7 linked regions of the Homo sapiens genome follow. The protein of the gene in region 4 interacts with the protein of the main gene of each other region in a pairwise test. Each region holds a gene or a part of one and is shown on either strand. Other genes may lie near its edges.

Region 1 (4,718 bases), on a different chromosome or scaffold from region 4:
TCTATTAGGCACTTAAAGGCACTAGGCATTGTCGGGTGTTGGAAGTCTTTGCATTCTACTCCAGTAAGAGTTTATAATCATCAAATGATTGTCATTGTCCTAGACATTGTTCTAGTGCTTTTTATATATTATTCTGTTTAAACCTCCTAACTATCCTGTGAACTAAGTATTATATTCTTCTTCAGGTGAAGATAATGAGGCACAAAGCAATAAAATTAGCCAAGGCCACCCAGCTAAGGAATTCCTAAATTCAGAATTCAAACCTAGTCAGAGTTCCTGAGCTTTAGCTCTTAAGTACTTTATTCTACTACATCTCCCCACCAGTTTTGTTTTACTAACACTCATTTTTTTTTTTTGGCTCAAAATAACCCCTCAGTTACTTCGGAGCACCCTCCCTGATTTTTCTAACTAGGCTAAGTTCCTAACGGCAGCAGAACTTTTTCATAACACTTATCACAAATGTAATATTGCATTCATTCATGAACTTTTGGTCTATCAGCTGTCTCTGACTAGATATAAATGTACTGAGAACAGGGACACTTCTTCCTCTGGTCTCCAAATTTACTGAAATTACCTCTTAAACAAAAAAATATGAAAAGGTTAGAGTTAGAATATTTTTCTAGAAGGAGAACCTAGTTTATTATTTTCTGTCATTCATTATAAATTAGAGCCACACCTTGGTGATTGGGAGAGCTGCATGCCAACATGGTCAAACTGGCTGTAAGGAGGAAGGGCTACTTGGAGTGAAGTTGAGAAGGCTTCCACCCCAAATACTTGTCTACAGCTATCACTAGTCTATATAAAAACCCCTTCACAGCAAGCACTGTAGGACTATATGGAACTTGCTTATACATCAGTGAAATTGTCCTTCAATATACGCCTGTGGGTTGGAACTACTACTACCATTTGCATTTCTCACGTTAACCCTCCCTAGCATTCATACTCCTCTTAACTTCAGGCTAAACTGAAAGGTGACAGCAAGGCTGCATTTTTGTTGGATCAAACTGTTCCAGTCTGAGAAATAAGAAATTACAAATATCTCTTTACCTCTCTTCCCAGGGAGTCAGCTCCAGTGTTACCTAGAAATAAATCAGATATGGTAAGTTGGGTCCTAAATGAAAGAAGTCAGATCTATTCTTCATCAGAATTCTCTGCTTTCATTGCAGACTGTGACTTCTTTACTAGGCTCTTTCATTCCCCACCCTTTCTGATTTCTCTAATCTTCCAAAAGTATCTGACTGATTTTCCTGTACCCCTTCCTTGGCAAAACCTTAAAAAGTTTGAGTAAAACTTTGATTATGACCAAAGTATCTCGATTTGATGTTTTAGGAAGTTGATCTATTTCCTTGAAAACAGAAATTATGCACTTACTGCTGGAAATGAATCAGGCACTGAGCAAATTATCTTTTGAATACTCACAAACATTCTCAAAACCAGTTACTAGATCTTTAATCTCACAATTAGTGAAGTATAATTTTTATCTCAGTTTACAGATGAAAGTATGGAGAGTTTTTATAACTAGCTGTGAAACAGTTATCATAAGCAGTAACCAGGTCTTCTGATGCAAAGTTAGCTTTTTCAATTACATTTAAATTCCCTTTTGTAAGTATTGTTGAAAAAATAGAGTTCTTTTGCCAACTCACTATCAGTTCCCAAAGAGCTATTTCCAACAATTGCATCATATGGACTATGGGTCTAACTCACATTTGTTGAATTTACAGGTAGTCAAAATAGCTAATCTCTATTCCCCCAGAAAATAGCAGAGGTTTTGCTGACAACATATAGGAAATGATAACTGTGGATAAGTTCATGGAAGGGAAAGGGAACTAATATGATAGCAATCAAATAAGGAAACATTCCTGAAAATTAATTTTAATATCATCAATCTTTGAGGTGATCTGAGCAAAGAGGTAGTTCTTTGTATCTAAATGTAATGAAAATTAGTGAGGCATCTATGAGCTTGGAGAATTTCCCCCGGGATAGTCAGAACTTGATGTTGTTGGGGGCCCACTGGCTTTTAGAATCTAGTTGAGTCTAAAAACTGAAGAGCAGGTGCTCATCACAGGCATCTATTTGTATTAATTAACATGCATGAGGAGGGGGAAAGGGAACACTGACTGTTGCCATAAATATTCAGCAAATAAAACAAACAATATTCTTCCTCTTCTTAGCAAAGTGCTGATTTGGCTCTCCACAGGATCCTTCACTACATGAGAGGTGAAGTTGAAAATGTTAACCATTTCCAGTGATAAAAAGGAAACTGATCTTGGCTCTGCGGGTTCAGAGTTGTCTGTCAACATTGTCAAGATGCAGTTGGAGGTATATGTGCACCATCTATTCAAGCAGAATATTTTCTTTCAAAACATTCAAAATGTGTAATGTAAATACACAAAATGCAATTTTTGTATTTCCAGATACTAATAAGAAATACCAGGAATTGAAAATAAAAAATTCCCTTTATATCACATATATTAGCTATTCAGGGATAAATCTGACAAACTATACATGATTCAAGTACACTGAAACCTATACAATAAAAAAATAAATTTTTAATCAGTCAAATTATGCCTTTTATACTGAATAACTGGAAGCCATTTATCTATTTTATGCAATCCCATGAGAATTTAAAATTTGTAATTTGGCCTTACACATTTACAGAATGAGAAGTATACTTAAAGTTAAAATATTTTTACCCTTTTTTCTCTACCATATCCCAACAAAGGGTCAGCCACATCAATAGAGGAAAACCATTTTATTTCTGGGAATTTCTTACTAGTAGAATTGTTTTCCTTATAGTAGGTTAAAAATTCCTCTTAAAAAATAATTCTTACCTGTTGATTTTATTTCATCTCATTAGGTCCAAAACATCTCTCGAAGACTAGACTACATCAAAAGTCTAGAAGATAATGTGCTTCACAAAGCAACAGGTCAAAACAGTTTTATTTAAATTTGAAAAATATGCAACACTTACCAGATAGACTCAACAGGGCCAAGGCACTGAGAAGAAAGATGCCTGTTACCTTCATGGCTGAAGTTCTGCGTCCAGAGGTCAGTTGAAAACTGCACCGCACTTACCACGTCTCTTCAGAAGCCTGGGACTGGAAGGGTCATATGGCAGATGGCAGCAAGGCCCCACCTACTGGGCTATATCACAGATCTCCCTGGTTATTGATTGACTCTGTGTCATAGCCTGGCCTCCAGGTTCTGGGAATGTCACCTGTGTAAGAAAGGTGAAAGGAGCCAGGTGGGCCTGAAACATGCAAGGCAAAGATTCTGTCAGGAAAATAGTTCTAGTGGTTAGTTTGATCCCTAACTCCCTCTGTGGTTGTGGGAAAGTCATTCCCTTCTCAAGCCTGTTTTCTCACCTGTAAGATGAACTCAAAGATCCCTTCTACTCTGTAGTTCTGGATAGATGAGCAGGTATGGATAGCTACTAGAAAGAATTTTATTCCAAGTAGGGTAAAACCTCTCCATTCTTTTTTCCTTTCCTCCACTCTTCCTTTCTTATTCTTCTTTCTCTTTTCTCTATTTTTCCCTCACTCATTCACAAAACCTAAAGTAGCTGATGGAGTGGCAGATGAGAGGGAAAGAGAAAGCAAGAGAGAGAGAGGACTCAGTTCCCTAAAGCGTGTATTCTGGAGCTAGAGGGTGCTTGTTGGAGCCACTTTTGCTGTGCTTCTGTGTATTCATCTGGAAATTAAAATAATAATAACACCTAATTCAAAGGGTTACTCTTTCATCTGAGAATATGTGCTGGGTAAAAGAGAATATGTGCTGGATATCTACCATGTGTTATTAGAAGAGAATTCTCCATCCTCTCTCATGTTTTGGTGTGTCTTATGAGTAGAGGTACTGATAACCTTTGTTTCAGACTATCTTTTTAAGGGTGTTTATATAACAAACGACCTTAGAAAATACGTAATGTCTCCCTCTGCACCAAAAGGCAGGTTTGTTTACTGTTTAGTGTAATAAAGTTAATATCTCCTTCTAGGGCAAAGACCATGTTAATTGCCCTTTACAAAAGATTTCGGGTTTTTAAAAGCTTGGCCTTTCTTTCCTTTAACACACTGTACTTTCCCTGCAACTATCACTTGATGCCCCTTAAATTGGCCTGTGGAAATTGGGGCTTGGGAAACCAGAACAAATTCCAATACTCTGGCTGTTGCTATGGAATAATTAAGTCCCTTTTCTCTGAGCCAGGAGTCTGTGCCTTCTGCCAGAAACCATTATAATGTGGCAGGCTAACTTCTTAGCTTCCAAGTAGGATAAAATCTCAAACCCTTCCCAAGTCATGACAAGAACTGTATTTATCTCTTAAGACAGATCAGTAAATAAAAATAACAATCTCTGTCTTCATGGAGCTTCCATTGCCTTTTTGTTGAGGGAGGCAAGTGACAAAAAATAATAAGTGATTATAAAATATATCAGATAAATATTATGGAGAAAAGGACAAGAAGGATAAGGGTGCTGGAGGGTTAAGGAGATATGTATCATAGCGTAATCAGAGAAGGTCTTGCTTTTCAGGTGATATCACACAGAGACATGAAGGAAATGAGGATTTGAACTATGCATTTATTCCAAGGATGTGCATTCCAGACAGAGAGAATAGTAAGCGCAAAGGTTCTGAGGCTGACGCTGGTTTGACATGTTTGAGAAACATCCAGGAGGACACTCTGGCTTGAGCAAAGTGATAGAGGGCAAAATGGGAGATGAAATAA
Region 2 (3,954 bases), on a different chromosome or scaffold from region 4:
GGTTGTGTGTAAATAAATCTAGAACATCTGAAAAATGGTCAATTGGTGGTAAAATGAAGTTGAGTAAACTTCCATTACTCTGTACTTGAGGCCAGGTGCAGTGGCTCACACCTGTAATCCCATCACTTTGAGAGGCCAAGGTAGAAGGATTGCTTGAGCCCAAGAGTTTGAGACCAGCCTGGACAACATGGCAGAACTCCATCTCTATAAAAAAAAATACAAAAAATTGACTGAGGATGGTGGCACATACCTGTGGTACCCCAGCTACTTGGGAGGCTGAGGTGGGAAGATTGCCTGAACCAGGGGAGGTCAAGGTCACAGTGAGCCGTGATCCTGTCACTGCACTCCAGCCTGGGCTACAGAGTGAGACCCTGTCTCAAAAAAAAAAAAATTGTATTCCACTGATTTTCATTGTGGGAATATAACTGCCAATGTTTACCTGAAACTTTTATGAAGAAAGAAATGGCTCAACAAATTAGTAATTTTCATATAGGCTTCTGGGTTATATCTAAGTGACTGGGCCCAAGGGAGCAGACTGATTGGAAGGACAGATCACGTCAGTGTCCAGCTTTGGTGGGGCCTCCACTGCCCCCAGGCATACTCAGTGCTCTTTGGTTCTGGGTCTCACACTGTCCCTCCTGCCTCTCCCGCAACTCCCTCCCTAACCTGCTTTCTTCTTTCCTTCCTTCAGCTCCATGTTGTATCTTAATTATGGAGACTAAGGCTCTTGCTGTTATTATATGGGCTGGGACATGTTTGCTTCTTATGTTAATATTTAAGTTACAGCATGTGTACAAAAGAAAAAAATCCTGGTTATACACTATTACTATTTTACTAATGCGGAAAATTGAGGCTTAGCAAGGTTAAATAATCTGCCCAGAGTTCACATTGGTTCAGTGGCAGAACTGAGGCTTCAACCCAGAGTGTTTTGACTTGGGAGCTTATCACCACTAGTCTGTATTATGTAAAGGTGAAATAAGCCCGCACAGTTATATTCCTTCTAAACAAGTCATCCTGCCCTAATTGTGAACATCCTGGTGTGTTTGTTAGATCATATACTCCCTTGTGCCAGCTTACCAAACCAATTGCCTACTGTAAGTTGATCTTTTTTGAGGGACAGGGATGGGCATTCTGAAGAGTTGGAAATTTTTTCTGTCAAATAAGTTGACACAGTGTGCTTTGTCCATGAATTAGAGTTTTCTGGTCTGGTTTGTTTAGACAGGAACTTAACTAGTGGAATAATTGTGCCATTGGTAGATCCATATTATAATTGAAAGCAACTCAGATTGCAGAAAAGGAGTGCCCCCCAGCCATGACCCATAAGCAAAGAGGTCAGAAACAAATGAAAAAGCCAAAAGTTTCAAGTATCAGAAATCTCCGTAGGTCACACGCAACTTCCTCATTTATTTCTGTCTATTCTGAGATGGTAATTGTATGAGAAAGCCCTCTATTAATAATAAATTCAGGTTTTTTGACTTCTTTCTCTTGTAGCCTTTCTACCAGGTTTGGCACCGTAGCTGTTCCTAATATTTTATTATTTCAAGGAGCTAAACCAATGGCCAGATTTAATCATACAGATCGAACACTGGAAACACTGAAAATCTTCATTTTTAATCAGACAGGTATGTGGAAGTAATGTGCTGAGGAAGAAGATATTCTATTGCTGGGGGTCTGTGCCTTCTGTGGGTTCTGATCTGCTATAATCCTTAAGTGAAGGATTCAAGACTGACTTTGAGTTGTAAAACTTCTCTTCTAATGAACTGTTATGATCCTGTTAAATACTTCCCAATCAGTATGAAGTTTAACATGAATAGGTAATTTTAATTATTATAGATACTTTTTTTTTCCCTTTTTTTTTTTTTTTTGAGTCTTGCTCTGTCGCCCAGGCTGGGGTGCAGTGGTGCGATCTTGGCTCACTGCAACCTCCACCTCCCGGGTTCACGCCATTCTCCTGCCTCAGCCTCCCGAGTAGCTGGGACTACAGGCGCCCGCCACCATACCCGGCTAATTTTTTGTATTTTTAATAGAGACGGGGTTTCACCGTGTTAGCCAGGATGGTCTCGATCTCCTGACCTCGTGATCCACCCACCTCGGCCTCCCAAAGTGCTGGGATTACAGGCGTGAGCCACCGCACCCAGCCTTTTTTTCCTTTTTTTTGAGGCAGAGTCTCACTCTGTTGCCCAGGCTGGAGTGCAGTGGCATGATCTCAGTTCACTTCAGCCTCCGCCTCCTAGGTTCAAGTGATTTGCGTGCCTCAGCCTCCAGAGTAGTTGGGATTACAGGCGTGTGCCCAGCTAATTTTTGTATTTTTAGTAGAGACAGGGTTTCGCCTTATTGGCCAGGCTGGTCTCGATCTCCTGGCCTCAAGTGATCCACCCGCCTCGGCCTCCCAAAGTGCTGGGATTTTACAGGTGTGAGCCACTGTGCCCGGTCTATTATAGATACTTTATTGTTTGATTGACTGAGACGGAGTCTCGCTCTGTCACCCAGACTGGAGTGCAATGGCATAATCTCAGTTCACTGCAACCTCTGCCTCCTGGGTTAAAACGATTCTCCTGCCTCAGCCTTTCTAGTAGCTGGGATTATAGGTGCGCACCACCACACCTGGCTAATTTTTGTATTTTTTAGTAGAGACAGGGTTTCGCCCTGTTGGCCAGGCTGGTCTTGCACTCCTAACCTCAAGTGATCTGCCTGCCTTGGCCTCCCAGAGTGCTCAGATTACAGGTGTGAGCCACCGTGCCTGGCCTATTATAGATACTTTAAAACAAGTGTTACTGAAATATAATTCACATACCATACACTTTACTTATAACTTTTAACGCACATTTTTCACTTAATATTTACACAAAGATATGCATAAGTCATGAGTGTACAGGGTGATGAATTTTCACAAAGTGAACACCCTGGGTAACCACTCTGATCAAGAAACAGAGCACTGGCTTATGCCTGTAAACCCAGGAGTTTGGGAAGCCTGTGCGGGTGGATCTCTTGAGGCCAGGAGTTCGAGACCAGCCTGGCCAACATGGCGAAACCCTGTCTCTACTAAAAATACAAAAACTAGCTGGGGATGGTGGTGGGTGCTTGTAGTCGCAGCTACTCGGGAGGCTGAGGCATGAAAATTGCTTGAGCCCAGGAGGCAGAGGCTGCAGTGAGCTGAGATCACAGTACTGCATTCCAGCCTGGTTGACAGAGTGAGACTCCGTCTCAAAAAAAAAAGAAAAAAAAAAAGAGAAACAGAACATTACCAGCCTCCCTTCAGCACCACTGCTCCTGCCTTCCCCAAAGATAAAGATAACCACAGTCTTGACTCCTAATATCATAGACTGTGTTACTTGTTTTGGACTTCATATTAATGGAGACATGCAGGATGTTTTATTTTGTGTCTGTTTTTTTCATCCAACAGTATGCTTGTGAGATGCACCTGCATTGTCATGTATGGTTATGTTTTGTTCTTTTTCTTTGCTGCTACTGTTCCATTTATTAATCCATTTGTAGATGCTATCTTAGTTCCTTAATATTTGCCAAAACATATGGCCTTATTTTTTATTGTTTGTAAAACATTGTAAAGCATTGTAAATTGAAAAAATTACCTCCATTGGAAAAGTTCATTCCTCTAAAGCCTCACTGTCTCAATTGTGAGCATCCCACTCTTCCCAAAGTATGCTCACTGGAAATAAATAAAAATTATAACACACATTGCATATATATTAAATTGCATATAATCATTTTAGCTAACACTAAAGAAAAAAGAGCTGAGTTGGCTGATAGGAGTAAAAGTAGGATATTACAAGGTGGTTAGCTAGTCCAAGTCTTGTCATGGATCCCTGATTGTCATTTCGATTGATGTGTGGAGAGGGAGCCATTTTATTCAGTGCTCTAAGAAAACCTAGAACACAAATCTGGGAGTCAGAGCATCTTTGGTAATCCCTGTTTCCGTTGGTGGCTTGTTGTTAT
Region 3 (3,265 bases), on a different chromosome or scaffold from region 4:
AGGATGAGGGACGGGTGGCCTCTCTCCCTTGCTCCGTTCTGTCTTAGCTGCTGGAGCTGGCAAATGTGTGTGGCTCAGCCCCGGGCTTGGCACCAGGTGCTTCTCTCTCACCATAGGGATGAGACTGCCACGCAGGAACCCCGCCCACATTTGCATGTGCCCAGGACACATGCGGTGTGTGAGTGACTCCAGCAGCCTGGACCTGCGCTGCAGCATTGGGCCTGCTGGGCCAGGAGGACAGGATGGGCACCCAGAGTGGGAGCTGCACAGAACGTCAGGAGGGCAGAAAGGCCATGTCCTGGGCCTGGGTCTACCCGCCCTCACCTGAGACCTGTGCACTTTCCACCTGAGCACATGCACGTCCGTTCAGCTGGGCCCTGAGCCCCAGGCACTCGGCCACCCTCCTCCCCGACCCTGTCTCAGGCTCCTGCTGTAGGGAGCCCAGGGTGGGTTCTGTTTCTCAGCTGAGACTGGTCCCAGGGTGCCCTCTGGTCCCATCCCCTAACTGCTGCCACACCCCTCACCATCCCGGTATACAAGGAGGAGGGCCTGGGGGTAGTGCAACCTTCTGGGAGCCAAGGGTCACCTGGGCCTTGTGCAGCCCTTGATTCTCCTAGGCAGGGCAGGCTGGGCCCCGGTCATCGGTCTTCTGGGGCATGTGGCCTCCCACCTGTTTGCAGGGGTTGATTGATTGATTGATTGATCGATTGAGATGGAGTCTTGCTCTGTCGCCCAGCCTGGAGTGCAATGGCACGATCTCAGCTCAATGCAACCTCCGCCTCCCAGATTCAAGCGATTCTCCTGCCTCAGCCTCTCAAGTAGCTGGGATTACAGGCACCCGGCACCATACCCGGCTAATTTTTGTATTTTTAGTAGAGACGGGGTTTCACCATGTTGCCCAGGCTGGTCTGGAACTCCTGATTTCAGGTGATCCGCCTGCCTCGGCCTCTAAAAGTGCTGGGATTACAGAGGTGAGCCACCGCGCCCGGCCTGCTGGGGTTTATTTGTCTAGCTGGGGCAGGGTAGGGAGGGTCCCAGTCCCAACAGCCTGGGCCTTGGGACAGGGCGGGGGCAGTGATGGCCCCTGGAGCCCTACTGGGGGTGGTAGATGTGGTCTTGGTCTTCCTCCGGTCCCAGGAGCACCTGGTGATTTGGCATCACCCACAACCGGGGCCTCTCCTCGCCCTGGTCCTCCTCAGGCGGAGGGTGGTACAGGCTGTCATGGTCGGGCTCGGGACTCAGGACATGGCCCAGGGTGTCCTCGGTCTCCATCCAGGCCTTGGTGCCTAGGGACAAGCACATGAAGGTATAGTCTCAGTTTCTTTCCCGAGACCCTTGGTCTGTCCAAGTCAACCCCACGAGCGGACTCTGCTGCTGTGACCTTGTGCCCACCTGGAAGGATGGGGCCCCTGCCCTGACCTCGTGGCTTCTCCTCGGTGGTCAAGAGTTTCGGCTTCTGGACAGGGAACAGCACCACCAGCTGGTCGTCCTTCTCCGGAGGCTCCACCACACGGGCGCCCCAGGCCCTGCTGGCACAGTTTGGTCAGGTCCACATGCAGGTGGGGGAGGTGGACAGAACCCCCCGCAGGAGGGTGCCCACCATCCCAGGGCAGCCACTCCAGCCCCACCACCAGCAGCCCCAGGACAAGCCTCTCTCTCAAGAGCCAGTGATGAGTGGCCCCCAGTGCTCCCGGCCAGGCTTCCACACCACGTCCCTGGGTGGCTGCGTGGGGAGCAGTGGTCAGAGCCTTGGTTGAGCAGTGTCCCAAGGGCAAGGATGTGGGGAACCTCAGGATCCAAGACTGAGCCGCCCCAGCTACAGCCACCAGCCGTGGAGCACAAGCTGCCCTGGAGGCTGTGGGGAAGCTGAGTAGGGAGACACCGTGGAGCCCCAAGCCCTCCGGCTGTGCTCTCTTCTCCCTGCATGGGGCGCTGTTGACAGATGCCCATGAGGCTGGAGTGCCCCCTCCTTCCAAAAGCTGCTGGACAGGGCTCCTCTCTGCATCTGCCCCGTGCTCTCCAGGTTCAGGAAGGGCCCAGCAGAACGGGCTGTAGCTTCAGGGAATGGGTGGTGGGGAGGTGGGGTTGGGGGGACTTACTTCTCTGGGTCCTGCTCTGAGGGCCAGTGTTTGACTTGCATCTTGATAGGGACCTGGGGGAGAGTCACAGGTGTGGGCTGGGCCACAGTCCACGCGGGTGGAGGACACCTGGGGAGAGGTTGCTCCGAGGCCCACCTGGGGCTGCATGGGGTGGAGGTGGCTGCAGGGGGTGGGGGCAGGGCCAGCTCAGCACAGCTCGAGCGTCTCTAGTGGGCAAGCCACTCTCGGGTGTTGGGATTGCAAGCCGGGATTGAGGTTGCCGGCCTGTGCCCAGATGACCAGCTGGCCTGGAATTCTGGCCGGGTCTGGGGCAGCACAGGACTGGGATGTAACCTGGCACCGTATCCCTGACCTAGCACTCCCAACCCTGGCCGTCAATGCACTGGCTGTTTTCTGCAGTGACTGGTTGGGTCTGTGTCTGCACCACCCCTTCCTGGCTGGTGCCGAGAGAACGCGGTCAGCCGCTCTGAGCCCAGCTAACCTTAGTTGTCAGCTGCTCTGAGCCCAGCCAACCTTAGTTGTCAGCTGCTCTGAGCCCAGCCATCCTCAGTGGGGCAAAGGACAGACAGGAGAGCAAAGCAGGTGACCCCAGGGGAGGACCAGTGGCTCCAGGGGAGGACCAGCACCGTGGGGGGGCTGTGCCCATGCTCCTGCGTCTCCAGTCAAGGAAGGCGTGGGCCTCCTTCCTCCCGATCCATCCCAGGTGTGCAAGACTGTGTGGCCTTGACATGGGCCAGGGAACAGGGCCCGTCCCCAGGCATAGTCCCGGCTGAGGACACCACTGTCAGCACAGACAGTGCAGCTGAGCCACTAGCACATGGAGTCACCTCTGGCCTTCAAGGCCCAGGTGAGTATCAAGGGGTGTCATCCGGGCCCTCCTCCACCTGGGTCACATGGGTTCATCTGGGATCACCTGTTCCACTTGGGACCACGTGGGTGTCATCCGGGCCCACCTCCTCCACCTGGGGTCACGGGGGCTCATCTGGACCCACCTCGTCCACCTGGGGTCATGTGGGCTCATCTGGACCCACATCATCCACCTAGGACCACCTGGGTGTCTTGAGGCCTGTCCATCTGACCCCAGGGAAGGGAAGCCTGCCCCCTCCTCATGCCTGCACAGGCATCAAGAGTCATGAGCGTACCCATGCCTCTCTCCCCTAAGCCAG
Region 4 (3,954 bases):
GACCATACATAGCACCATTCATAGTCAAGAGAAATGTAAACAAACATGAAGATGCAGTGTTAAATCATAACTCCATTAAATTAACTGTAGTACAGATTATACTACTGTAATAATTTCATAGCTGCTTCCTGTTGCTATTCGGCAAGCTCAAGTGTTTTCAGTATCTGCTTAAAATACCATGTGATACTGTCGTCTCCATGTGAGCAGTTCCTCTCTCTGGTAAATTGCATATCACGGTGAAAAGTGGTCTCTTATGGTTCTTGTGTATTTTTCCTTGTGTTTAATGCAATGCTGCAAACCTCGAATAACACCATGGGACCTATACAAAGAGCAACTAATGATGATGGACACGCTGCCAAGAAGCAGAGAAAAGTCATGACCCTACAAGAAAAAGTTGAATTGATTGATATGTACTGTAGATTAAGGTCTGTACCTGTAGTTGCAGGCCATTTCAGACATTCAATTCATCTTGTAAACAGATGATGTAAACTTATGGTATCGATAAAATACCGTACAGTACTGTAAAAGTATTTTCTCTTCCTTATTATTTTCTTAATACCATTTTCTTTTTTTCAGCTTACTTTAGTGTAAGACTATAGTATAGAATACATATAACATACAAAATATGTTAATCAACTATTTATGATATAGGGTAAGGCTTCCAGTCAACAGTAGGCTATTAGTTGTTAAGTTTTTGGGGAGTCAAAACTTAACATGCATGGAGGATCGAAGCCCCTAATCCCTGTGTTATTCAAGGTCAAAGGCCTTTAACCTGTGTCTTGTCTGTTAGACATTCTTAGTCAAATAGTCCAACACCGAGTGAAGAATTTGGATCCCTGCTCTGCCAGTCACTACCTATTGGAGCAAGACACGTCTTCTTTATTGATAAATTTTTATTTATTTCCAATAAGCCTTTTGCATTCCTACTTCATCTTCTCATGTTTACTCAATCTTCTCATTCCTGCAGTGAGGATGACATATAGCTCTCACCTCATCTAAATGGGATAAGTTTAAGCTTTACTGTGATTTGTTTCCAACAATTATGTTATTTATTCTAGGAAGAAGAAATGAAAATGCCTGCAAAGGAGCTCCTAAAACCTGTACCTTACTAGAAAAGTTCCCCGAGACAACAGGATGCAGAAGAGGACAGGTACCAAGAGTGTCGTGCTGGGGAGAATACAATTAATTGTTAGGAATAAGGGCGTGTTGACCTTTACAAAGAAATGGTTGTTTCCTTTGGCCCAATGAATGCCTCTTTTTACATGCCCTTTTTACTGAAACATAATTTTATGTGGTTGACGTCAGAATTGAGGGTGGAAAATGTTCAGTGTTTATAGCTTTGTGGAAAATGTGAGTGCTTATTTTTAGTTCCTTCACAAAGAAATAAGACTTGAATATAAATATTAAATCTTACAAAGGCTCTAATCCAAACTGACAGTAATTTTGTACTGTCACCTTAACTTAGCAGTTCCTCCACACCTTGATAAATGGCTGAATGGAGTGTCATGTTTTCTATGCAGATCAAATATTCCATCATGCACCCCGGGACTCACGTGTGGCCGCACACAGGGCCCACAAACTGCAGGCTCCGAATGCACCTGGGCTTGGTGATTCCCAAGGAAGGCTGCAAGATTCGATGTGCCAACGAGACCAAGTATGGGTCCTCTGTTATCCGTCATATCCGTCACCTCAGAGGATGAGAGTTTGTTACAACACAGTTGTGTTCCTTTGGATTACTTATCTTCTTTTGTAGCTGAAGTAGACTGGAGCAAAGTGATATTAATCCAAACTCTTAAGTCTATATCCCTTCTTGGTGCTTTCTATTAGCCTGGAGACATTGCCCAGCTCTAGGGCTGCCCTCCTCCATTATTTCTCGGCAGAGTACTTATCTAGTTGAGGAGCTGCCTTGTTTCTCTCTCTGGGTAGACAGATGTGCATTCAGAGTCAGCCAACATGCATTGAGCCCTGCAGATGTTATGCATTGTGCTTCCTGCTTTGCAACTTGACTTATTCATGACTACAAGAAGTACCCCTAACTGAAGAACTCACCCCATGATATTTATACGTTTTGATATAGAGGAGATGGTATGGTGCAATGGAAGCTGGCTGCCTTTTTCAAATCCCAGCTCTAACACCTAACCTGTGTAACCTTGGCTAGTTACTTAATCCCTTCAAACATCAGCCTTCTTGCTTATAAAATTGGCAGTGATAACATCTACTTTGCAGGGTTGTTGTATGGATTAACTGGAATAATGCCTATAAGGTGCTCAGTCCATGTTCTGGTATCAGTCGGGACGTGATGAATGTTAGATCTCCTCTCCCTCCCTTGCGTGTTACTTTCCTAATCCTGACATGTTTATTCATGATCTTTTGAACAAACCATACTTGCTCTGGCTTCTGTACCTATGATGCTGATAATCTCTGTCCCTAGAATGCCCGTCTTTTCACCTGTCCAAAATAAACCTATTACTAAGATCCAATTTAGTTTTATAAAAATAGAACCTCTCAGAGTATATATCCTCAGTAATCCCATTCCTATCTTCTATTACTCTTTATTCATTAATATATATTACCCTTATCTCCATAGCAAGCTGTATGTAAGCTCCTGGAGATCAGAAAGCAAGTTATTGTTGTCTTACACATTTCTTATTGTTCTTAGTAGAGGTCTGAGTGGAGGATGAGTGTTCAGGGGTCTGCAGAATTGTCTATTTGATTATTGGCAGATAACTGCCCTGGGCAGCCCATGGTGCTGTGGGAAATTCAGAGATGACTCAGAAGGGGCCGTCCTCTTCTGAGGACACCTAGCAAGGTGTGTCTGCTCAGGAAGATAACACAAGATTGAAGGCCACCGTGGTCATAGAAGAGGTACTACAGATGGCCTCTCTACAGATAAGCTAAAAATACTACAGATGGCTCCATGAGCAGGAGCCTCACCTGCTCACAGACACTCAACTTGCAGAGTGGTGGTTTTTAAAGACAAGAAGGATTCGGACATTGAAAGCTAAAGAGGGGTATTCTGGAACAGTATCCATTAAAGGCACAGAGGCCAAAAATTATGGCCACATATGAAGAATATTGAATAATAATTCAGCAGCCAGCAGTGTATGGTACATAAAGAATAAGGTTGCAAAGTGAAAGAGTCTTTTAGAAACTAAATCATAGGAGGCTTTGAATCCCAAACTAATGGGATCAGACCTTTGTTAGGAAGTTACTGTGGAACCCATGGGTGAATCCTATGGGGACAGTGGGAAGAACAATTAGCAGGCTGTCACAGCAGCCCACCCAAAAGATAAACAGAGCTGGAATTGGGATGCTGGAAAGAAATGGAGACTAGAGAGCAGATGCAAGAGGTGACTCTTGAATGTGTGATACAGGAATGGGGCATCCAAGATGCTGCTGCAATTGCAGTCTTTGGACAGTGGAGGGTGGCGATGCTTGAGCAAACCTTGGGAATTTGGGAGGCATGAGGCAAGTTCAAGGAAAGGAAGATGAATTTAGTGCTTATGTATTTTATTTAGTTGCTATTGGAACACACTTGTAGAACCATCCAGGAGGTGGCTGGAAATAGAGACCTGGCACTCAGGGGAGAAGGTAAGTCTAGAGATAAAGATTTGAGAGTCAGACTTATCAGGAACTTCTAGAGGAAGCTTGAGACAATCGAAGGATGACAGAAATGAAAAGGTTCCATGAAAACATCTGTATTTAGAAGACGGAAGGAGGAAGGAGAACCAAGAAGGAAATGGGGCAAGAAAGGCAAAATCGGGTAGACCAGGAGGAGGAATCAGGGATCACTGGACAGGCAGAAGTTTCTTCAGGCATGGAATGAATCTTGTCTTACACTGGGAACTCGGTTTGGGTCTTCAGGGTCTCTCTGCCAAAGTGAAAAGGAGCAGGGACACATTGGAGGATGCAAGGAATTCAGAGAGGAGGTTGGAGAATGCTGGAGCAGGCAGA
Region 5 (3,898 bases), about 35 Mb from region 4:
GGCCTCCCAAAGTGCTGGGATTACAGGCATGAGATATCGCGCCAGGCCACATTTCCACACTTAAAAAATAAAAATAATCCCTTTTCTGCCCCCAGATCCCCAAAATATACTCACTACCCCTGCCACCTCATTCTAAATGACCAACGGCATACCAACGCATGATACAGACTAAATTCTAACTCTCTCCTTCCCATGTGCTGGAATCTCAGCACAGCCTCAGGGAAGAGGAGGAGGTGTGACTGTGCACAGCTGATGTGTCAAGACGTTACATCAATGTCTTCTTTATTCTTGACACCAACCCTGCAATGCTGATGACACTGAGTGCAGAGGCATCAAAACTGGACAACTAGCCCAGGTCCACTGGGGGCTGGTGTATTCAGTTGACCCTGAACCATAATGCCTTCAGTGGCCAGCGTGAAACTTCTTCAGGAGTGCCAACCAACCCCAAAATGTCCAGGCCCACGGGTATCTGCACTTCAGCATGCAGTGTCAACAGATGTTTACCCAGCTCAGCACTGCACAGGAGTAGGAGATTTGGAAACATGGTTTCTTCCTATAGCACTAACCTTGATGGGAGAGAAAATTCACCTATTTAGAATGTCAGAGAGGTAAGAACATCTGACATGGCTCCCTCATTTCATTCATTTCATTGCCAAAAAAAAAAAGGCCAAGAGAGGAAAGGAAGAAAAAAAAATGTCCTATCTTCCGTGCCTCAAGCACCATTCATATGCTCCCTTCATTTCATCTTCACAACAGTCATGTTATAAAGGCATTCTTAGGTCCAATTTACACACACACACTTTTTTAAGTGACTCAGAGCTTTAATATACTGTCCAAGTTCTGACACATTAAGTGGCAAGGTACCAGCATCTGAACCCAGACTTGTCCACCTCCCAAGCCCAAGCCCTTTGTATTCTAAGCCCAGCTACTGCTGAAAACTCTAGTAGTAACATAGAATAGCACATAATTAAGGGGTAATGCTGTGATCTAGACCAGCGATTCCCAAATTAGTCTGATTCATTAGAATCATCTCAGTCGCTTTATAAAAATACAGTTTCCCCCACACTCCCACCCCCATTCAGGTTTCTGATTGTGTAAGTCTGAGAGGAGGCCTGAAATCTGTATTTTCACATACTTTCAATGATTCTGATCATCAGTATGCCTTGCTATTTACAGAAGGATTAAAAACAACAGGGCTGGATCAGCCATGAAAAGGTATTTGGAGCTTGCATTTAATCAATAGCATTTAAAAGGAGAAACACTGAAAAAGTAGCAATGTCCAGGGAGTGTTCATGATAGTGATATCAATGGGCCAGGGCTGGGAGATGTGGTGGAAAGTGATCAAGGGGGTAACCAGAAAGGAAGGCTATTATGGGGCCGCTTATAAATCCAGCAGAGGCATACAGACTATATGCCATGATAACAAGGACACGGAGGTGTCTAGACCATGGGCAACATGATCAAAGTGGTGGAGGACAAACCAAACTGCATGCAAGTGTCTGGGCCAGGAATGGCAACTACAAGGCTACTGACATAGAAGCACAAGCTGGCATGCCCCCAAGGAAGAAAAAAAGAGGGAAAGCTCTTCATTTGAAATTTTCTGTCCCATCAAGATTAGTGCTGCAGGAAGAGACCAATGGCCAGGCATAGTGGCTCACGTCTATAATCCCAGCACTTTGGGTGGCCGAGGCGGTGGATCAGCTGAGGTCAGGAGTTGGAGACCAGCCTGGCCAACACGTTGAAACCCCATCCCTACTAAAAATACAAAATTTAGCCAGGTGCAGTGGCATGTGCCTGTAGTCCCAGCTACTCGGGAGGCTGAGGCAGGAGAATCGCTTGAACCTGGGAGGTGGTGGTTGCAGTGAGGTGGCTGCAGTGAGGTGGTGGTTGCAGAGTGCCATTGTACTCCAGCCTGGGTGACAGAGTGAGACTCCATCTCAAGAGGAAAAAAAAAAAAGATTAGCGCTGCAGGAAGGGACCACATTTCCAAACCCCGACTTCTTTGCAGTGCTGAGCTCAGGTCAGGAGCTGGGTAAACACCTGTTGGTGCTGCATCTTTAAGTGCAGGTTCCCATGGGCCAGGGCATTCTGGGGCCGGTTGGCACTCCTGAGGAAGTTCCACGCTGGCCACTGAAGGCATGAAAAAATGAACGGAAAGATCACTAGAATGCAAGCTCCAAGAAGGCAGGGGGATATCTGCCTGGTTTGCTCACTGCTTTACCTCAAGCACCTAGTAGGTATGAAATAAATATCTGCAGAATGAATGCACAGCTGGACTTAGAGGCAGACTGGACGTGGAAACCAACAAAGATGAATGAGTCCAGGGCTTCTTCAAGATTTAAATCCAAATGATTAGAATGAAAATGATAGTACTGTCACAGTTGACTAAAAAAGTTAAATAAGAGTAGATTGGTTTTAGCAAAGATTCTTCTTCATTACTTCTGGCTTTTCTCTAAGACTTTATTTTGGCCTCTAGTCCACGAAAAGAATTCAGTGGTTTGGAGATTCTGCAATGCACCCTTCTGCCTTGGGAAGAAGAAAAGGATGGGCAAAATCTTTTAGTTTGATTTTTGGCAATGGAAGAAGGACAATCTAGTGAGAATCTAAACCCAGATGGCATTCCTCACAGGACAACTGGATCCCCACCAGCAGGTATGCCAACAGCACAGTGGCTTGACTGGACTTGCTATAAACCTTAATGACAGGGCTGGTGGGGCTCTGTGTGACTGGGTCAGCTTCAGGGGCCTTGCCAACCTAAGGAGACTCCAAGCCACCTCTAGCTGGCCAGTCAGGTCTCTGGGGGCTTTTGGAGACTTGAAAACTAGTTCCACCCAGGGAACAAACCAGTTCACCTTTTGAAATCCTTTCCAAACTAATGATTATCCAAGGCGCCATTTAAGTGATCATATTACACAGGGTAGGCTACCCCTCGAAGGGTGGTTACCATCAAAACTAGACATATCAGGTCCTAAAAGCAGAAGCTGAAGGGCATGCTCAAATTGCTTCTCAGACATCCATTTTCTGCAAGCCTGATCTTTCAAGATCTTTCCTTCTTAAATGACATCCTCCTTCTGCTAATACCCAACTAAGAGAGAAAGAGCCCTTGTTTTTATAAAATTCCCTAGCAAAAGCAATTTGTTTCACTCATAAAACAGCCAAACTATATTTTCTAAAGAACTGCAAAGTTACATGATTTCGATTTTAGTTACCCTTCTAATGCAAACTTTCCAGAGCCTGCCTTTCATAATACACCGAGAGATAATGCATGGGCCCAAATGACTTGACAGTTTCTTTTAATTTACAGACATCTAAGAATGTTTATAAAATTCCTCTAGTTCAAAACACTTCCTTTTCTTAAACATATTTCCAGTTCAAATTATGTGTTTATAGCAGTCTGCAATATATTATTTCTAAAGATAAACAGTCATGTACAAAATGGACAGAAAACCAGCAGCATATCACTACTGCCACACTCAGTCAGATTTTCCCCTTGCCTGGTGCTCCGCAGCCAAAGTCCTAACCTGCCAGTGGAAAGTATGAATGGATCACTAGGAACAGGCTTTCCCAGCTGCCTCCAGGATCCATAAAGGAACAGCTACCAGTTCCTTTTCATAGGCAGTTTTGAGCCTTAGTTCCTGAGAACCTCTTTTTTACCCCCAGAGCTAAGTATAAAACTTAAGAATTCACTAACTGTAGGCAGTTTTCCTTTCTTCCTTTAAAGGGAGACTTTAAACCCAAATCACTACTTCTAAATCCCAGGAAACAGTTGCAGTTTTCAAATTAAAATGCAAAGTCCTGGAAATAATATTCTGTAATTGCTAATTTTTTTTTAAATTCAGTCTTTTGACTTCATTTATATTTTTGCTGCTATACATGAAACAAACGGAGACTGAAAAGT
Region 6 (4,730 bases), on a different chromosome or scaffold from region 4:
GTTCAGTACCCCCAGACCACTACATGCCTTTCTCTGTGAGCACTTGTCATGCTGACTTGTGATCCATGGATCTCAGTTAGCCAGAATCCAGCACAGCCTGACACTTAGCAGGTGCTCAGTTTATGGAACGAACGAACGAATGAACATCTGTTCATATACACTATAGCTCTGCAGACACCATGATTATCTTGTTCTCCATTGTACCCTCAGCACCCAGTCCAGTGCTTAGGCTGTAGTAGTAAGACAGTAATGATTTATTAATTGATTGAAAGAGGGCGTCCCAAGAAAGGGACTTGCGTCTATGTTGCGACGACATCTTTATTGCAAGGGCAAGAAGCACATCCCAGACCTTTTTGAAAACATCAGGGATGGAGGTGGGAGGCAAGGCAAGATGGAGGAAATTTCTAGGAGTACAGATATTTAGCTGTCATGGTGGGTTTCCCTCTTCAACTATCGTTTCAGTTTTCTAGGGTTTTTTTTTTTTTTTATGGAGTTTCTCTCGTTTCCCAGGTTGAAGTGCAATGGCATGATCTCGGCTCACTGCAACCTTCGCCTCCCAGGTTCAAGCGATTCTCCTACCCCAGCCTCCGACTAGCTGAGATTACAGGCGCCCGCCACCTCGCCCAGCTAATTTTTGTATTTTTAGTAGAGACGGTGTTTCACCATGTTGGCCAAGCTGGTCTCGAACTCCTGACCTCAAGTGATCTACCTGGCTCCGCCTCCCAAAGTGCCGGGATTACAGGCATGAGCCACCGTGCCCGGCCTTCTAGGGATTCTTAACCTGGGGCTCATAGGTGGGGCTTCAAAAGATCCATGAATCCTCCGACTCTTTAATCAAGCACCCGTGTCAGTAGCTGTATGTGCATTTTTCTGGAAGAGGATCATGGCTTTCAATGAGTGTCAAAAGGCTGAGACTGCTCGAGACCTCACCGTCCAATACGGTAGCCATTAGTCCCGTGTGGCTCTTTAAGTTTAGATTTAAATTAAAATTTCAGTGCCTCACTTACACTAAGCTACACATCAAGTGCTCAACAGCCACTACCTACAGGCCAGACCAGATAGAGGGCATTTCCATCATTGCAGAAAGTTTGATGGGACAGATATCTGTATTGGTAGCATTACCAACTGAATACAGGTAAGATTGGATCCAACTAGTGCTTTTGTAAAATGAGTTACCAACATTTAGAAATAAAACATAAAAATCTAAAATCCTGATTGATTTCATTTGGGAAACAGGACTATCTATCAGCGTGGGGCCTGCGTTCCCCTGGCAGCTGGAACGCACAGTACCGCTCCCTTTAGAGGGACTCTTGGTCATATAGAAGTTCCCCGCTTGACCCTCCTTGACGACTGACAGTACGACCCTCGTTTCTAGGGGACTTCGCCCGTCTTGGTCTCCTTCCAGGCTCGCGTTTGTAACCAGACTCCAAATTTTACTAAATGGGGTTGAATTGGGTTTGAGAGCACATCTTAGAGCAGGGTCTAGGGCTGAGATTCGGGGTCTCAGTTGGAAGTTGAGGAAGGGCAACGTCTCCTTCCTTACAGTTTTCCCGGAACTGTAGGAAGTCAGAGGGAATTTTATCCTGCACATCTGTTGCTTGACAAAGAACTTCCCAATCCTCCTCCGAGCCCTCCAGTCCCTAGCCCAGTTCGCCCGGGCCCGCCCCTAGCAACAAGATCGCGGGGAGGGGCCGAGGCGAAACACGAGCCCCGCGCCCACCACCCCAGCTGGCGACGTGGCTCCGCGGCCCCGGCTTCCCCCGGCAGCTCAGCGACCAATGGGCGCGCGAGCGGGGCCGCCCGCAGCTTCCCAGCCCGAGGCCCAGGCGCGCCCCTCTGCTCCGGCTCGGGGCGGGCACTGGCGGAGGGACTGGCCAGTCCCCTCCTCCGCGCCGGCCCCAACCCTGTCGCTGCCGCCGCGCTCCGAGTCCCCATTCCCGAGCTGCCGCTGTTGTCGCTCGCTCAGCGTCTCCCTCTCGGCCGCCCTCTCCTCGGGACGATGGCGCGCGGTGGCCGCGGCCGCCGCCTGGGGTTAGCCCTGGGGCTGCTGCTGGCGCTGGTGCTGGCGCCGCGGGTTCTGCGGGCCAAGCCCACGGTGCGCAAAGAGCGCGTGGTGCGGCCCGACTCGGAGCTGGGCGAGCGGCCCCCTGAGGACAACCAGAGCTTCCAGTACGACCACGAGGCCTTCCTGGGCAAGGAGGACTCCAAGACCTTCGACCAGCTCACCCCGGACGAGAGCAAGGAGAGGCTAGGGTGAGGCCGCGGCCAGGGCCCCGTGGGGGGCGGCGCAGGTGTCCGAGGGCCGCCTGGGCGAGAGCCACGCGGGATACCACCGCCAAAGCGAAAGCGAAATCGCGCGCGCGGCCTCGAGGATGGGGCCCTGCCCAACTCGGCGCTGGGGCTCAGGCTAACTTGCTGGAGGGCCCCGGGACCCCAGCTTGGAGATCGCCGCCGCCGCGCCCCGGCCGGGGTGGTTTCTCGCGGGGAGGCGAGAACGTGGCAGCGGCCGCGGGAGCCAGGACGGCGAGGGCCCGCCCCCTCCCCCAGGTTGCATCAGAAGGGAGGGGAGAGTGCACAAAAGAAGAGTTTGTCCACAGTGGCCTGTTAGTGCCATGAGTTCCTCCCCACTCTCTCGCAGTTTCTCTCTGATCCCCCACTCCCGGGGAGAAGGGCTTGAGACACTCGCTAAGAAAATCTCAGGGATGAACATAAATGGATAAAAGATGAAGGGGCAGGCGAGCGACAGGCTTGCTTCCTGGTCTCGGCCGCAGTGGTCTTGCCTTTTGCCTAATCGCCCTGTAAATCTATCGTAAGGAGTCTGGGCGCGGTGACTCACGCCTGTAATCCCAGCACTTTGGGAGGCCGAGGCGGGGGGAGGGGTGGGGAGATCACCTGAGGTCAGGAGTTCGAGACCAGCCTGACCAAACGGCGAAATCCCGTCTCTACTAAAAATACAAAAATTAGCCGGGCGTCGTGGCACACGCCTGTAATCCCAGCTACTTGGGAGGCTGAGGCAGGGGAATCGCTTGAACCCGGGAGGCGGAGGTAGCAGTGGGCCGAGATTGCGCCACTGCACTCCAGCCGGGGCTAGAGTGAGACTCCATCTCAAAAATAATAAAAATAAAAATAAAATAAAATCTAGTGTAGGGATACAAAAATCCGGTTGAAAAGGGACACGCAGTTTCCGATTGGAAACACGAGGGAGCAGGAATGGAAACGGTTCGCCTGAAACGTTTCTGTTGGCAGCAGATGTCTGCAGAAGCACTCAGTTCTTTGGCAACTGATTTGTTTGGGGGGCAAAAAGCTGGAGGGTTCTCTTGGTGGTGGAGGATTTTGACTTGGGCTGTTAAAGGCAGTTGAGTCAGGAACCAAACCCGGGAAACAAAACTTCGGCGCATTTTAGTACACCCTCCCCGGGTCCCCTGAGGAAACACTTGGGCACTGTGCGGAGGTATCTGGTGGTCCTTGCACAGAGGACCCAGCAGGCAGCCTGGTCCCAGATGGAGGCAGGGCTGGGGAAGAAACCAGCAGTCCTGCCTATTGGGCACCAGGTCTCAGATCTCCCTGAACCTGATTCCTGGGGGTGGAGGATCTTCATGTTCTGCCACATGAAAGAGAACACAGCCATCCCTGTGCTCCTGGGGGCCTCCAAAGGCCAAAGTGTTTCATTGGAATATGAGGATAAATTATACCTATTGTGTAGGTGCACCATTTGCCTGCTCTGATAAAAAGACCTTTGAACTTCAAAGTCACCTCCAAACAATTACCTTTTATCTTGCAGAGTACTTTCTCTTCTCAGTTAGGACTTAACAATAGGGGCCATTGATGAGTTCAGTCTATTGTATTGCTTTGAGGCACTTGGAGACTGATTTATCCTGGAGCCCTGAGTGGCAGCCACATTGTCACTGGAGAGGAGGCAGGGAGAGGTTTTGGGATTTGGAAAACTTTATAAGGTGTGGTCATGCAGCTTCCAGTTAATGCCTTCATTGTGACAGTTCAGCCTAGTAGTGAGAAAAAGTGACGGTGAAGTTGGTCTGGATTTGATCCTTGTATCAACACCTTGACTTCATTCATTTATTCATGCAACAAACATTTGAATGGCTACTGTGTACCAGGCCCCAGTTTAGATAACTGGCAGGTACAAAGATGAAACCTTATGCTCTGGGCGTCGAAGTGCTTGTAAGCAAATGTGGAGGAGAGAAGCACAGACAAACTAGCCATTATGCACAATTGCTGCAATGATGGCCTATAAAACCTACTGTGAGCACATTCAGGAGAAGGAGCCGCCAAGGCTGCAGGTTAGAGAGAGGGGATTGGGGCTGTCACCTGATCAGAGTTTGTAGGATGACTTGGAGGTTGCCAGGTGTACAGCAGGGGAAGGCCTTCCTGAAGAGAAAACAGCCCATTTCTAAAGGGTTTGAAAAGCGTTCTGGGGCATGAGGGGTGGTGAGTCTGCAAAGGGGCAGGGAAGGGAAGTGAGAGGTGAGAATGGAGGGGAAACCAAGGGCAGAGCAGGAAGGACCTTGGTGAGATGGACATGAGATGTTATCCTGTACATTGTCAAAATGTCATAATCCCCAAAACTCATTGGGAAAGTCAGGCTGGCAGGAGGGCAGTACACAGAGAACATAATCAAGGCACAGACTAGACCAGTGGCAGGGAGAGGAGGTGAATGCCAAAGGGGCTTGGTCTCTCCGGATTCCAGGAGGGGATGAATCTAGACACCAGTG
Region 7 (3,954 bases), on a different chromosome or scaffold from region 4:
CGTGACTCTCGAGCTTGGGGCCACTCTGGGCAGAGGCACAGTGGTCTTCTCCATTAGATCGCTCAGAGCCTGCACATGGATCCCTGATTCAGATACCAGTTTGCTCATTTTCCACATGGCTAATGTATTTTATCTGTTGGTAAAATGCTCCCAAAGAGTGTTCCACTCATCTTCCAAATGTATTTAGGAAACCATCGCCATGGCTGCTGAGCTAGCGAGCACCGAGAAAACTGCAGTTTCACATTCCATCAAGACCTGTGACCTCGATGGGGCAGCAAAGTGAGAAAACATTCTTGAGTTGCCGTGCGGCCTCTGCAGTAGACGCTGGCACTCTGGCTGTCGGTCCGGGCTAGATAGATGTTCTGAAAAATGACATAGCATTTAATTTGGTTAAGGGCAAGACAGTCACTCTGTGACCATACAGGCTCTGCTGTGCTCTCTGCAGACATGGAGCAGCATCAGATGGCACTTCAGCCTCCCCGCAGCCCCCAAAGAAAGTGCTGTTGTCACAAAGAGAGCACAGTTATGCACAAAGAAAGTCTGTTTGCTGATTACCTTTTTTTGAGACAGGATCTTGCTCTCTTGCCCAGGCTGGAGTACAGTGGCACTATCATGGCTCACTGCAGCCTTGAACTCCTGGGCTTAAGTGATCTCCTTACCTCAGCCTTCCGAGTAGCTGGGAGCACACCACCATGCCTGGTTTAAAAAATTTTTTTTAGAGATAGTGTCTTGCTCTGTCATCCAGGCTGGTCTCAAACTCCTGGGCTCAGGCAATCCTCCCTCCTCGCCCTCCCAACTTGCTGAGACTACAGGTGTGAGCCCCCAAGCCTGGCTCTGCTGCTTGTCTTTTAAAGAAATTCATCTCCATGAGCCATAGAAAGCTGTTTCCCTTTCTAACCTACAGCCTTCCGGATACCCTTCTATGTTCACACTCACTAGGCCACACCCCACTGATGGAGCTGATTCCCTAATCTCAATGTCACCTGCAGCCTGAATGTAATTCTTCTTTATTGCGTTCAGCCCACCTCTGCCCTGGAGCTGCCATGACAACTTGTTTGTTTGCCTTTCCCTTTCAGATTTCAAATCCAACTTCAGAGCTGCTCCTATCAGGTCGGTGGACGTCTACAATGTCATGTGCAATGTGGTGGGCATCACCCCGCTGCCCAACAACGGATCCTGGTCCAGGGTGATGTGCATGCTGAAGGGCCGCGCCAGCACTGCCCCGCCTGTCTGGCCCAGCCACTGTGCCCTGGCACTGATTCTTCTCTTCCTGCTTGCATAACTGATCATATTGCTTGTCTCAGAAAAAAACACCATCAGCAAAGTGGGCCTCCAAAGCCAGATGATTTTCATTTTATGTGTGAATAATAGCTTCATTAACACAATCAAGACCATGCACATTGTAAATACATTATTCTTGGATAATTCTATACATAAAAGTTCCTACTTGTTAAAAAAGATACAAACCTTGTTTTTCCAGAAGGTAGGAAAATCCTAGCTTTCCATTTGTGCAGTTATATGTCATTTTCTCCTTTCTTTTCACGTTACTCAGGATGAACTCTCTGAGCAGGGACCTGCTCCTGCAGCAACCAAACTTGGAGTGGTTATTGCAGACAGACGTGGCTCTGGGCCCCTCTCTGTCCCACCTTGCACAAAGGACCCCCTCAGACCAGGCCCTTGTCTGTGCCCTGTCCACACCCAGGAGCCATCCTCAGTGTCTGTGGCCACAATCCTGTACTGTTCCTTCCATCCCTGATAAAAGGAGGTCTACATGAAAGCAAAAGCTACTGTCTATTTCTGACCCAGCTCATGGAATTTTTTCATCTTATACTGAGCTCCAGAAAGGACGTAACTTAGCATGGATCACCAATCAATCAAAAAATAAATAAATCACTAAGGATTGGAGAACTCATAGAACAAGGTGAAAGACATGAGTGCCCTCCCAAAGTCTGAGTGCACGAAAATTTCTCTCTTGCCTTGAGGAGCAGAAAAGCTTCTGATGGACATGGGCTTCTGTGAGACTTATCACACATAGTGTATCGTGGCATGAAGCCCGGCACATAGCAGGCCCTGCATATTGATGGACAAATGGATGGCCTGCCTGCCTTCCCTGTCCGTTCACCTGTGCAAAGGCTTCCTCAGACATGCCACTCTGTGGCTCCCAATATAGGGTGCAGACAAGAGCAATCCCTGACATGACATTATAGCCTGGGAAAGGGCTGGCTCACTGATGAGAATGTGGAGGCATCAGCAAGGATCTCGGTGGGTTGCTCAGAGAGGTGATGCACTAAGCCTTAATCCTGGACACCAGTACCCCTGCAGCATGGCTTGCTCAACAACAGTCTTTGAGTGGCATAGAATTCCAAAGAAAATGGTGCTGGGTGGAGAATGGAGAGAGCATGATGGAGCAGAGTCCCAGTCACTGACCAACTAACTGGTCGTTTGATTAGGAAACAGTTTGGCCAAAGTACCACCTTTGAGACCTAAGTTCTTTTGATACCTTTGAGAAGAGCCACTGAGCCTGAGTTGAAATATTTTTAGCTTAGTCATCTGTGTTTGCTATAGGAGAAATTGTAACACAAGAAATAACTCCTTTTTACATGATCATTTATATCTATATACATATATATACTTGCATACACTATCACTGCATTAAAAAATGAGTTTGGGCTGGGCATGGTGGCTCACACCTATAATCCCAACACTTTCGGAGGCCAAGGAGGGACAAACGAACCCTTGAGGCCAGGAGTTCCAGACTAACTTGGGCAACACAGGGCGACCCCCATCTCTACAAAACATAAAAGATTTTTAAAAAATTAGCCAGGCATGGTGGCACATGCCTGTGGTCTCAGCTACTTGGGAGGCTGAGGCAGGAGAATCATTTGAGCCCAGGAGGTCAAGGCTGCAGTGAGCTTTGATCACACCACTGCACTCCAGCCTGGGCAACAGAGCAAGACCCCATCCTCCACCCCCCCCAAAAAATAGAAAGAAAAAAAAAGTTTGCACTAATTGAGGTACATCTGCAAGTGAGACTTTTTGTCAGGAAAAGGCAATATATCAGGTCTCCTCAGGACGATGGAGGCCTTATATGGTGTGTTACCTTGAAAACTGAATATCAACGTTCACCTTGATTCAGGAAAGCTGGGTGCTGTCTCCATGCCATGAATCATGAGAGCAAAGGATCACTGCTTAAAAATACTGAATTTACCTTCACAAAAGATTTCTAAAGATTTATGTAATGTGTTTTAAAAGCGCCAGTAAACCATCGGATCAATTGGAAAGAAGGCAACTCTTCAGCCTTTGTTATCTAGCTGAAAACAAATGACAACTTTCAAAACATTGGCAGTAGTTGTTGAAAAAGACGTCTATTGTTCAAAGTTTCTTTCTCCTTAAAGGACGGTGTTCCAATGAATTCAGTAGAGCCCACTTTCCTCCACTGTGGAGGAAGAATCCCTAAGAGATACTCAAATGATTAAATTAAAATTGGATCATCAAACTCAAGAGAGGCATAAACTTAGACACAGTCTTGCATTTTTGTCTTTCCTGAACTCTTCTGCCATTTTCCTCCTTCACTCGTCCTGAAAATCTGCAAGTTACATAATAAAACTTTAGATATTTGTCTGACAAAGTGTAATTACTCAACTGAATAAATGACTGAGAACAAGTTACAAAAGGAATCATGAATCCTGGTAAACAATAAAGAAGATTCAGACACTGAGGGAAAAAAATAAAGCTTTTTACTTAAATAATGCATATATTTTTTATGGCTTAATTATTTGGTGAAAATTTGTTCCCTTTTATTTTTGTTTTAAAATTACATTGTTCTCCTTAGGAAAATTCCACTTTCTCTAAATGTATTTTTTTCCATAGGACTAAAATCTGCTAGGAATATGTATAGACACTTTGTCTCCTGGATTACTTTTCAACTTCACGGCTGATTCCAGGACAAAGATA

The links.
Region 1: the proteins of ASPH (region 4) and SPINK1 interact in binary tests that used the Homo sapiens proteins (3 or more experiments, as listed by UniProt).
Region 2: the proteins of ASPH (region 4) and TXNDC15 interact in binary tests that used the Homo sapiens proteins (3 or more experiments, as listed by UniProt).
Region 3: the proteins of ASPH (region 4) and PRAP1 interact in binary tests that used the Homo sapiens proteins (3 or more experiments, as listed by UniProt).
Region 5: the proteins of ASPH (region 4) and SDC2 interact in binary tests that used the Homo sapiens proteins (3 or more experiments, as listed by UniProt).
Region 6: the proteins of ASPH (region 4) and RCN1 interact in binary tests that used the Homo sapiens proteins (3 or more experiments, as listed by UniProt).
Region 7: the proteins of ASPH (region 4) and ENPP6 interact in binary tests that used the Homo sapiens proteins (3 or more experiments, as listed by UniProt).

The regions. Positions count from the first base shown.
Region 1 is NC_000005.10:147,828,552-147,833,269, forward strand, and holds the start of SPINK1 (serine protease inhibitor Kazal-type 1 precursor), read right to left. Parts: upstream 3,121-4,718; 5' UTR 3,027-3,120; coding exon 2,972-3,026; exon of another isoform or gene 2,858-2,971; intron 2,320-2,857; exon of another isoform or gene 1,954-2,319; intron 1,080-1,953; coding exon 1,048-1,079; intron 1-1,047. UniProt on the Homo sapiens protein: Serine protease inhibitor which exhibits anti-trypsin activity. In the pancreas, protects against trypsin-catalyzed premature activation of zymogens.
Region 2 is NC_000005.10:134,894,803-134,898,756, forward strand, and holds part of TXNDC15 (thioredoxin domain-containing protein 15 isoform 1 precursor), read left to right. Parts: intron 1-1,491; coding exon 1,492-1,622; intron 1,623-3,954. UniProt on the Homo sapiens protein: Acts as a positive regulator of ciliary hedgehog signaling. Involved in ciliogenesis.
Region 3 is NC_000010.11:133,350,268-133,353,532, reverse strand, and holds the end of PRAP1 (proline-rich acidic protein 1 isoform 1 precursor), read right to left. Parts: intron 2,153-3,265; coding exon 2,100-2,152; intron 1,527-2,099; coding exon 1,393-1,526; intron 1,287-1,392; coding exon 1,093-1,286; 3' UTR 850-1,092; downstream 1-849. Other genes in the region: ZNF511-PRAP1 readthrough, read right to left, coding at 1,093-1,286, 1,393-1,526, 2,100-2,152. UniProt on the Homo sapiens protein: Lipid-binding protein which promotes lipid absorption by facilitating MTTP-mediated lipid transfer (mainly triglycerides and phospholipids) and MTTP-mediated apoB lipoprotein assembly and secretion.
Region 4 is NC_000008.11:61,515,228-61,519,181, reverse strand, and holds part of ASPH (aspartyl/asparaginyl beta-hydroxylase), read left to right. Parts: intron 1-1,058; coding exon 1,059-1,150; intron 1,151-1,520; coding exon 1,521-1,654; intron 1,655-3,954.
Region 5 is NC_000008.11:96,496,530-96,500,427, reverse strand, and holds part of SDC2 (syndecan-2 precursor), read right to left. Parts: intron 1-3,898. UniProt on the Homo sapiens protein: Cell surface proteoglycan which regulates dendritic arbor morphogenesis.
Region 6 is NC_000011.10:32,089,198-32,093,927, forward strand, and holds the start of RCN1 (reticulocalbin-1 precursor), read left to right. Parts: upstream 1-1,876; 5' UTR 1,877-1,999; coding exon 2,000-2,253; intron 2,254-4,730. UniProt on the Homo sapiens protein: May regulate calcium-dependent activities in the endoplasmic reticulum lumen or post-ER compartment.
Region 7 is NC_000004.12:184,088,505-184,092,458, reverse strand, and holds the end of ENPP6 (glycerophosphocholine cholinephosphodiesterase ENPP6 precursor), read left to right. Parts: exon of another isoform or gene 1-362; intron 363-1,076; coding exon 1,077-1,282; 3' UTR 1,283-3,753; downstream 3,754-3,954. UniProt on the Homo sapiens protein: Choline-specific glycerophosphodiesterase that hydrolyzes glycerophosphocholine (GPC) and lysophosphatidylcholine (LPC) and contributes to supplying choline to the cells.